2 linked regions of the Homo sapiens genome follow. The protein of the gene in region 1 purifies or fractionates together with the protein of each later gene. This does not show direct contact. Each region holds a gene or a part of one and is shown in the gene's direction. Other genes may lie near its edges.

Region 1 (3,656 bases):
TCTCTGCAGCCATGCAGAGGTAGCTGGGTGAACTTGAACAGACCATTATAGGAAGGTGCCCATCCACGATGCAGTCAGCGGTTGTTGAGTTGGGGAGTGACATGTCTCCAAGTACAGGCATTCTCCCATCTGGACATGGGTGGAGGTGGCATCCCTGAGGAGGGGGATGAGGCTGGGCTGGCAGCCTTAGTCACAGGGCGGGATGGGGCGGGATGGATTAGCTGGGAGAATCTATTGACAGATGCAGATGAACCTAAGGGGGAGGCAAAGAGCAGGGCTGCTGCATAGGAGAGAAAAGAGCTGATACTGCAGGGGGTATGGACAGAAGTGTGACCAGTGACTGGGAGCAAGAATGCTTGGAAAAGAGCAAGAGCTGGTGAGGTCTGGGGTGCAGTGGAGAGGCAGGAGCCAGGGCTGGCAGCAGATGATATTCTTTTTTTTTTTCTGAGACAGGATCTCACTCTCTTCCCCAGGCTGGAGTGCAGTGGTGTGATCATGGCTCACTGCAGCCTCAACCTCCACCTCAACCTCCCATTAGCTGGGACTACAGACATGACCCTGGCTAATTATTTTTGTTTTTGTAGAGATGGGGGTCTCACTCTGTTGCCCAGGATGACATACTTTTAAAGGTTAAAGTGATAAAAACCCAGAACTTGACTTAGACTTAAAAGTCTCTGGAGAAGGAGAGAATGACCCTGATGAAAGGATGAGCCGTCTTACTTTCTTTCAGTGTCAGTTTCTCAAAAGACTTGAACCTCAGGCAGAGCTTCCCCTTGCCTGGCAGGCAGGCTGCTGGGCCCTATGTGAGACCCCTGAGAGGAGGCAGTGTGCCATCATAAGAGAACTCTGGAGTCAGAACCCTAGTTGTTAGCCTTTGCTCTGCTTAAATATCCTACGGCTCAGTTTTCTTATCTATAAAATGGGGATAAATCCACCAGCTCCACTGACTTCAGAGGGTGAGATGGATGTGGAAGGACCTTTTAACTTGTAAAGTTTAGTACAAATGTGAAGCGGATCTGGCCTTAACTCCGAATTTCCCTTTTCCCAGCAGAGGCAGGCCCACCCAGGAAATGACTGATCTTGTGTCTGGCTTGCTCCTCAGGGTCTCCACAGAGCTGCGCTATCGAAAACAGCCCTGGGGGTTAGTGAAAACGTTCATCGAGAAGAACTTCTGGAGTGGGCTGGAGGACTACTTCCGCCATTTAGGTGAGCACTGCAATCCTTGCTGCTAGCTGGGCTGCAGAGATGGTAAACTGCACTGCGGCCGCCCACCATTCAGGGGAATGGTATTGAGAATAGAGGCAGAGACTGAAAGGTGAAGTAGTTTCATGAGGTACCCACACCTGCTTCAGAAGTGGACACCAAATTTGGCATGTATGTGGACAAGTGCATTTTTCTAGACTGTGTCTAGGATGTTTAAGAGATCATTGAGGGATCTATAAAACACCCCTCACCCCAAAAGGAACCACAGACCTAGTGATATAGGTGGCTCTGTGACGAGAAGTATTTGTAAAATGCCTGTGAATGCATCTATTTAAGACGTGTATGCCCCAAATTGTATACATGAGGGTGCAGATATTGGGAACATATGGTTCCTTGCAATGTTGAACAACCCCAGAGGAAGGGTTTGACTGGGGCTGGGTCCCACAAGTACCTCCTGAGGCTCATGGGCATCCCTGAGGATCCTCAACCCACCCAACCAACTTCCCAGAATACAGAATAGGAAAATGGTTCTGCAGAGAGTTGCATTGGAGGGCTGAAGGTGGCCTCTCCTGTGGTCCTTTTGTCTCTGATAGAGAGCGAGCTGGCCAAAACGGAGAGCACTTATTTGGCTGAGATGCACAGACAATCTCCCAAAGAGAAGGCCAGCAAGACTACAACGGTGCGGAGGAGGAAGCGTCCCCATGCCCACCTGCGAGTCCCTCACCTGGAAGAGGTGATGAGCCCGGTCACCACGCCCACAGATGAGGATGTGGGCCACAGGATCAAACATGTGGCAGGTGTGTGCCAGGTGGGGACAGGTCGGGTGGACTAAGCTTTGGGCTGGAGCTGCATGCCCACACCAAGGCACACACATGCACACTCATTTTGCACCTTGGCTATAATTTGTATATAATTTGAACGTAAGTCACTAAATCTGAGGCTCCCAATGCTCTGTTTCTCTTTGCTCTTTAAGTTCCTCAGCCCCAGCTGAACCCATATGTGTGCTCTAATTAACAAAAGCTGCCTTAGTGTTTATGCTTTCGTGTTGCCCTAGTTCCATGGCTACCTGCATAGGCTCAAGTATGAAGCTTCCAAGTTCTTGGGAAATACACTAAGGAGATCCCACAGCTCAGACCACAGAGATTACCTCATTACACAAAGATCAGGGAGACCAAGACAGTCCCCGTTCACTTCAACCCGCATGGGCCAACCCAGGCTTGCCCTCTCAGGCCGTGGACTCCCTTAATATTTCTTCCTCTTCCCACCCAGCCATTCACATCCTTGTCTTTGCTGAATCCTGGAAACCTGGGACTCTAAGGGGCCTTAGAGACCAACTAATTGAGTTGGATATGGACAGGGGAGGCAGAAGAAGAGGGGAGAGTGGGGGAAGAGTGCCAGCCTTCTGCATGCCGCCTAGCTTTACCCCTAGCACTTCCATGTTACGTGTTTTGCATTTAAGATTTCTGACTGACATTGCATTTGAGTAAACTGACTCTCAGAGAGCTTACATGACTTGTCCTCCATCATGTAGCTTACTAGGAATAGATCCAGACCCAGAAGCCAGCCGTCTTTAGTCCTAGCCCAATGCCACATCCTCTCCCATAGCTGAAGATCCCTTTGTCCTGGGCCTGTGTATCCTAGCTACATGGGCCTGTTGATTTTCTCATTTGTTCAATGATGACCTGACCCAACCCATGACCTTGCCCTTGAGGATTTTACCTTCTCCTCTTGGAGAGCTGGCAGTCTCCGCATATCGTTGCTGTCACAGTGTCATGGACATTTTTCCATCAGTCTCTGATGTTTGCTGTTTGACCAGTGTCCCCACCAGCAGTTGTTGGACTTGTGGGTCACCATGGTGATGGTCTCTTTAATTCTCCCCACAGGTTCCACACAGACGCGGCATATCCCGGAGGACACCCCCAACGGTTTCCACCTGCAGAGCGTGTCCAAGCTGCTGCTGGTTATCAGCTGTGTGTAAGGGATTCTAGGTTTTCCTATCCTGCCCTCACCACCTTCCCTTTCCAGCCTGGTGCCCCAGCCCTCGTCTCTTGAAGCATCTGAGCACCCTTACTGTTTGCCCTGGTTTTTGCCTTATCCTCTAGTCTTCTCTGTCTGGATTGGTTGCTCTGCCTGTTGCTTACCTCTTCGCTTCTTTTTCTCTGCTTTGTTCAGCATTTACTGTATGCTAGGCCTTCAGAAGAAAATGCTTCATGCAGCATCCATACCCTTCAGGGTTTCAGTTTCAAGTGGGTGAGAGAGACAGAACATTTGAAATTCCTGCACAGATGGTTAAATGCTAACAGAGAAATGCTAGAGGGCATTTTAGGAGTTCATTCCTTCATTAGATGTTCTGGGTGTCTGCTCTGTGCCAGGCACTGGAACTGTGCACTCATGGAGCCCACACGTTGGCAGGGTAGCCAGACAAAATCAATGCCTACAATACAAGAAAAGTG
Region 2 (3,656 bases), on another chromosome or scaffold:
TATGTCTTTGTTCTTATGACTTGATTTTTTTCCATGTAATATTTTCATTTGTAATATATACCTAAAAAAAATTTTTAGCATAGTACCTTCATAGTTTATGAAGTACCTTTTTGTTTCTTTAGTAACTATTAGGATCAGCTTTTCCTGATGCTTCAGATTGGTATTCCTGAAATAGTATGTTCGCATTTTTGTTTTAATCACTTGAACCTTACTAAAACTGGCCTAGTGTGTGTGACAGAGTAGCCTTTGGGTAAAATGTAGGGGCTACTGCCCCTCTAACCATCTTTTAGGCTGCTTCCAGGATATTTAAAAAACATGAATTTATTCAGATCATTCCCCAGTTTTAGAAATCGAAATCACAATACAATTCCTGCTGCATTAATTATAATTTCCTTTGTCTTTGAGAGTCCATACTCTGTTGATATCCTATTGTGTCATCATTTCTTACCTCTTTACAACTTTGTGATATAGTGTAGAGAACATATTTCTCATTAGGCAGCCACAGGATTGTTAGTTGACTTCTCATACTGGCTGTATAGAAACATGAGTGTGCTACTTTACCTGTATGAGCCTTGGTTCGTTCATTTTACAGTGTAGTAATAATAGTAGCTATCTCCTAATATAGACTGTACAAGAATTAAAAGATCCTATTTAACATGACAAGTAAAATGCTTGCCATAGGATATTTATATCTAGAACTTTGACAGACATACCTAATCATTGTCACTCAGGCATCCTGCATATCATTCATTTATTCATTTGCCTATCATTTGTTGAACATTTAAAATGTCCTAGATACTTAGAATATGAATGTTGAATGTCACAAAAATGAATGTCACACTCCCTCCCCTTTAGAAATTTACAGAATGGGATGAGAGATAATGATATGTAAATAAATACATATTTTTAAATAATTAAAATATCTTGTGTCTTTTCACTTGTGTGAGTCCTTCCTGTCTTTTAATATTTAAATGCAAAATGTTTCCATAATACCCACAGAATATCTGGGTTGTATATATCATACTGTAATGTATATATATTTTTTACTTGTCTAAATCAGCTATTCAACTATGAACTCCTTGAGTTTGACCAGTACTACTGGAGTCAGCAACTTTTTTAATATAAGAGAAGGTAGTAAATATTTTAGGCATTGTGGACCATATGGGCTCAGTTGCAACTACTTAAACTGTGCTACAGGAGCACAAAAACAGCCATAGATAAATTATAAACAATGGGCATGACTGTGTTCCTATTAAACTTCATTTACGAAACTAGGCAGCAGACCAGATTTGGCCCACAGGCTTTAGTTTGCCAACCTCTGCAATGGTGCATGCATATACTTTTATTTGTGCTTGACAAATAAAAGGCACTTAGTAAATAATATGATTAATAGGCATTAAACACTTTCTGTATTCTGGGTGCTATTGCAAAAAACTTTATATGTATCAGTTTACTTAAGCCTTAAAACATCTCTCTGCGGTAGATACTATTATCACCAAATGTCATAGAGTAATAATAGAAGCACTTTCATTAATAGATAGGAACACAACATTGGTTCAAAAGTCTTAGGCAATACATTAAGAACAAGAAAAATAATTAACCTGTAAATAAAGGGGGGAAATGTATCACTATTATTTAGAGTTGATATGACTGCTTACAAATACAAATAAATATAATACAAATACAAATAGCAAAAAAATATGAGATAACAGAAAAAGATTTGTATTAAAAAATTTCAGTAAGCTGATTGGCTATAAGATAAAGTTAGAAAATTCATTAGCCTTCTTATATATCAACAATAACCAACTATGAAATACAGTAATAAGAAGTAGCAGCCTAAACTATAAAATACTTAAGATTTTAAAATGTGTAATAGCTATGTGAAGAAAACTGCAAAAAGATGTGAATGGATGGAGGAGTATTCATGAATGTGTCAACTTAATGCCATAAAAATGACAGCTTTTACTAAATTATTCTATAAAGTCAATGCAGTTCTAATCAGAAATTCAACAGGAGTTTTAAAATGGAATTTGACAAACTGATGGTTCAAGTTTTGAGAAGGGAGCATGCACAAGAATGGCCAAGTAAATTTCAAAAAGAAGTATAATAAATGGGACCCATCAAAGGTCGAAACATTATAAAATTACAATTATTAAAATAAGAATTTGGAGTAGGAATAGGCATATTGATCAAAGGAATAGAATAATAAATTCAGGAGAAGATCCATAGATAAACATGGATAAAGAAGAATTGTATGATAAATGAATGAGTAATGGAAGAACTGGTCTATAAAGGGTGTGGGACAATCAACTGTTTAATTGAAGTAAAGATAGTTAGGTACCCACTTCGTGACACTCTCAAAACTAAGTTCCAGGTGGACTAAATGGTTTTTTATTTTTATTTATTTATTTATTTTTGAGATGGAGTCTCGCTCTGTCACCAGGCTGGAGTGCAGTGGCGTGATCTCGGCTCACTGCAACCTCCGCCTCCCAGGTTCAAGCGATTCTCCTGCCTCAGCCTCCCAAGTAGCTGGGATTACAGGTGCCCACCACCACGCCCAGCTAATTTTTGTATTTTTAGTAGAGACGGGGTTTCACCATGTTGTCCAGATGGTCTCGATCTCTTGAGCTTGTGATCTGCTCGCCTCAGCCTCCCAGAGTGCTGTGATTACAGGCGTGAGCCACTGTGCCCAGCCCCGAGTGGACTAAATGTTGATAAATAAAAAATAAAATGACAAAACTTTTAAAAGTTAATTTAAAAACTCGTTGGAGTAGAGAAGGCCTTTTAAGTGAGACATCAAACTTAGATGCCATTTAAAAAGGAAGGCAAGCAATAGACTGGGATAAAATATTCGACATGTAATAGACAAAATTAATATTCAAGGTATATAAGGTGTACCTACAAATCAATATGAAAAAGATAACCTGATAGAAAATGGGAAAGAATGTAAGCAGGAAATTTATAGAGGTAGAAATATAGGTAGCCTGTTAAGTTTTGAAGGAATACTATTGAACCGAATATAAATAGCTTCATCTTTTTAGGAGAAAAGTTTGGCAGTATCTATCCATTTCAAATGTACGTTCTCCTGAGCCAGAAGTTTTATTTCTATATGTCTGTAATATAGAAATGCTATCATTCATTAATAGAGAGTATTGCATGATTATTCCATGCAGAGGAGAAAATGTATGATGGGAAACTGGAAGTAATAAGATCATCATTAGAACAGTTAAATTATGGTGTGCCCTTACACTATAATATTAGATACTTATGAAAAAACATGAAATAGACATAGATGTACTTCTTAAGATATTTTACATGAAAGGGCGAGATACAATATAATACATACACAAAGACACAATTCATACACACACAAAAAAAATACAATACACAAAAGCAGTGTATGTGATTTCACTTACATAACAACCAATCCCAGAAAACCTAACACACAGGTAAGCACAGAGAAAAAGACTGGAAGGGTACACCACAGTTGTTAGCTATAGAAATAGGAGTTGGATTAGGGATCAGGAAAGAGTTAAAAACAATGTTTGTATGTGTATTTTCAAGTATAAGCAAGTACAGCCTTTGTGATATAACAAACATAACAACACATGCAAGGCTTTGTTATGATTGGTCCTGATTAGGACCATTCCTCCTGG

The links. The genes of interacting proteins can lie anywhere in the genome.
Region 2: the proteins of GRAMD1B (region 1) and FNDC3A purify together in Homo sapiens (affinity purification with mass spectrometry; 2 studies listed by BioGRID and IntAct, with this or other methods). This does not show direct contact.

What each region holds. Positions count from the first base shown.
Region 1 is NC_000011.10:123,611,659-123,615,314, forward strand, and holds part of GRAMD1B (protein Aster-B), read left to right. Parts: intron 1-1,102; coding exon 1,103-1,206; intron 1,207-1,796; coding exon 1,797-2,000; intron 2,001-3,086; coding exon 3,087-3,177; intron 3,178-3,656. UniProt on the Homo sapiens protein: Cholesterol transporter that mediates non-vesicular transport of cholesterol from the plasma membrane (PM) to the endoplasmic reticulum (ER).
Region 2 is NC_000013.11:48,982,287-48,985,942, forward strand, and holds part of FNDC3A (fibronectin type-III domain-containing protein 3A), read left to right. Parts: intron 1-3,656. UniProt on the Homo sapiens protein: Mediates spermatid-Sertoli adhesion during spermatogenesis.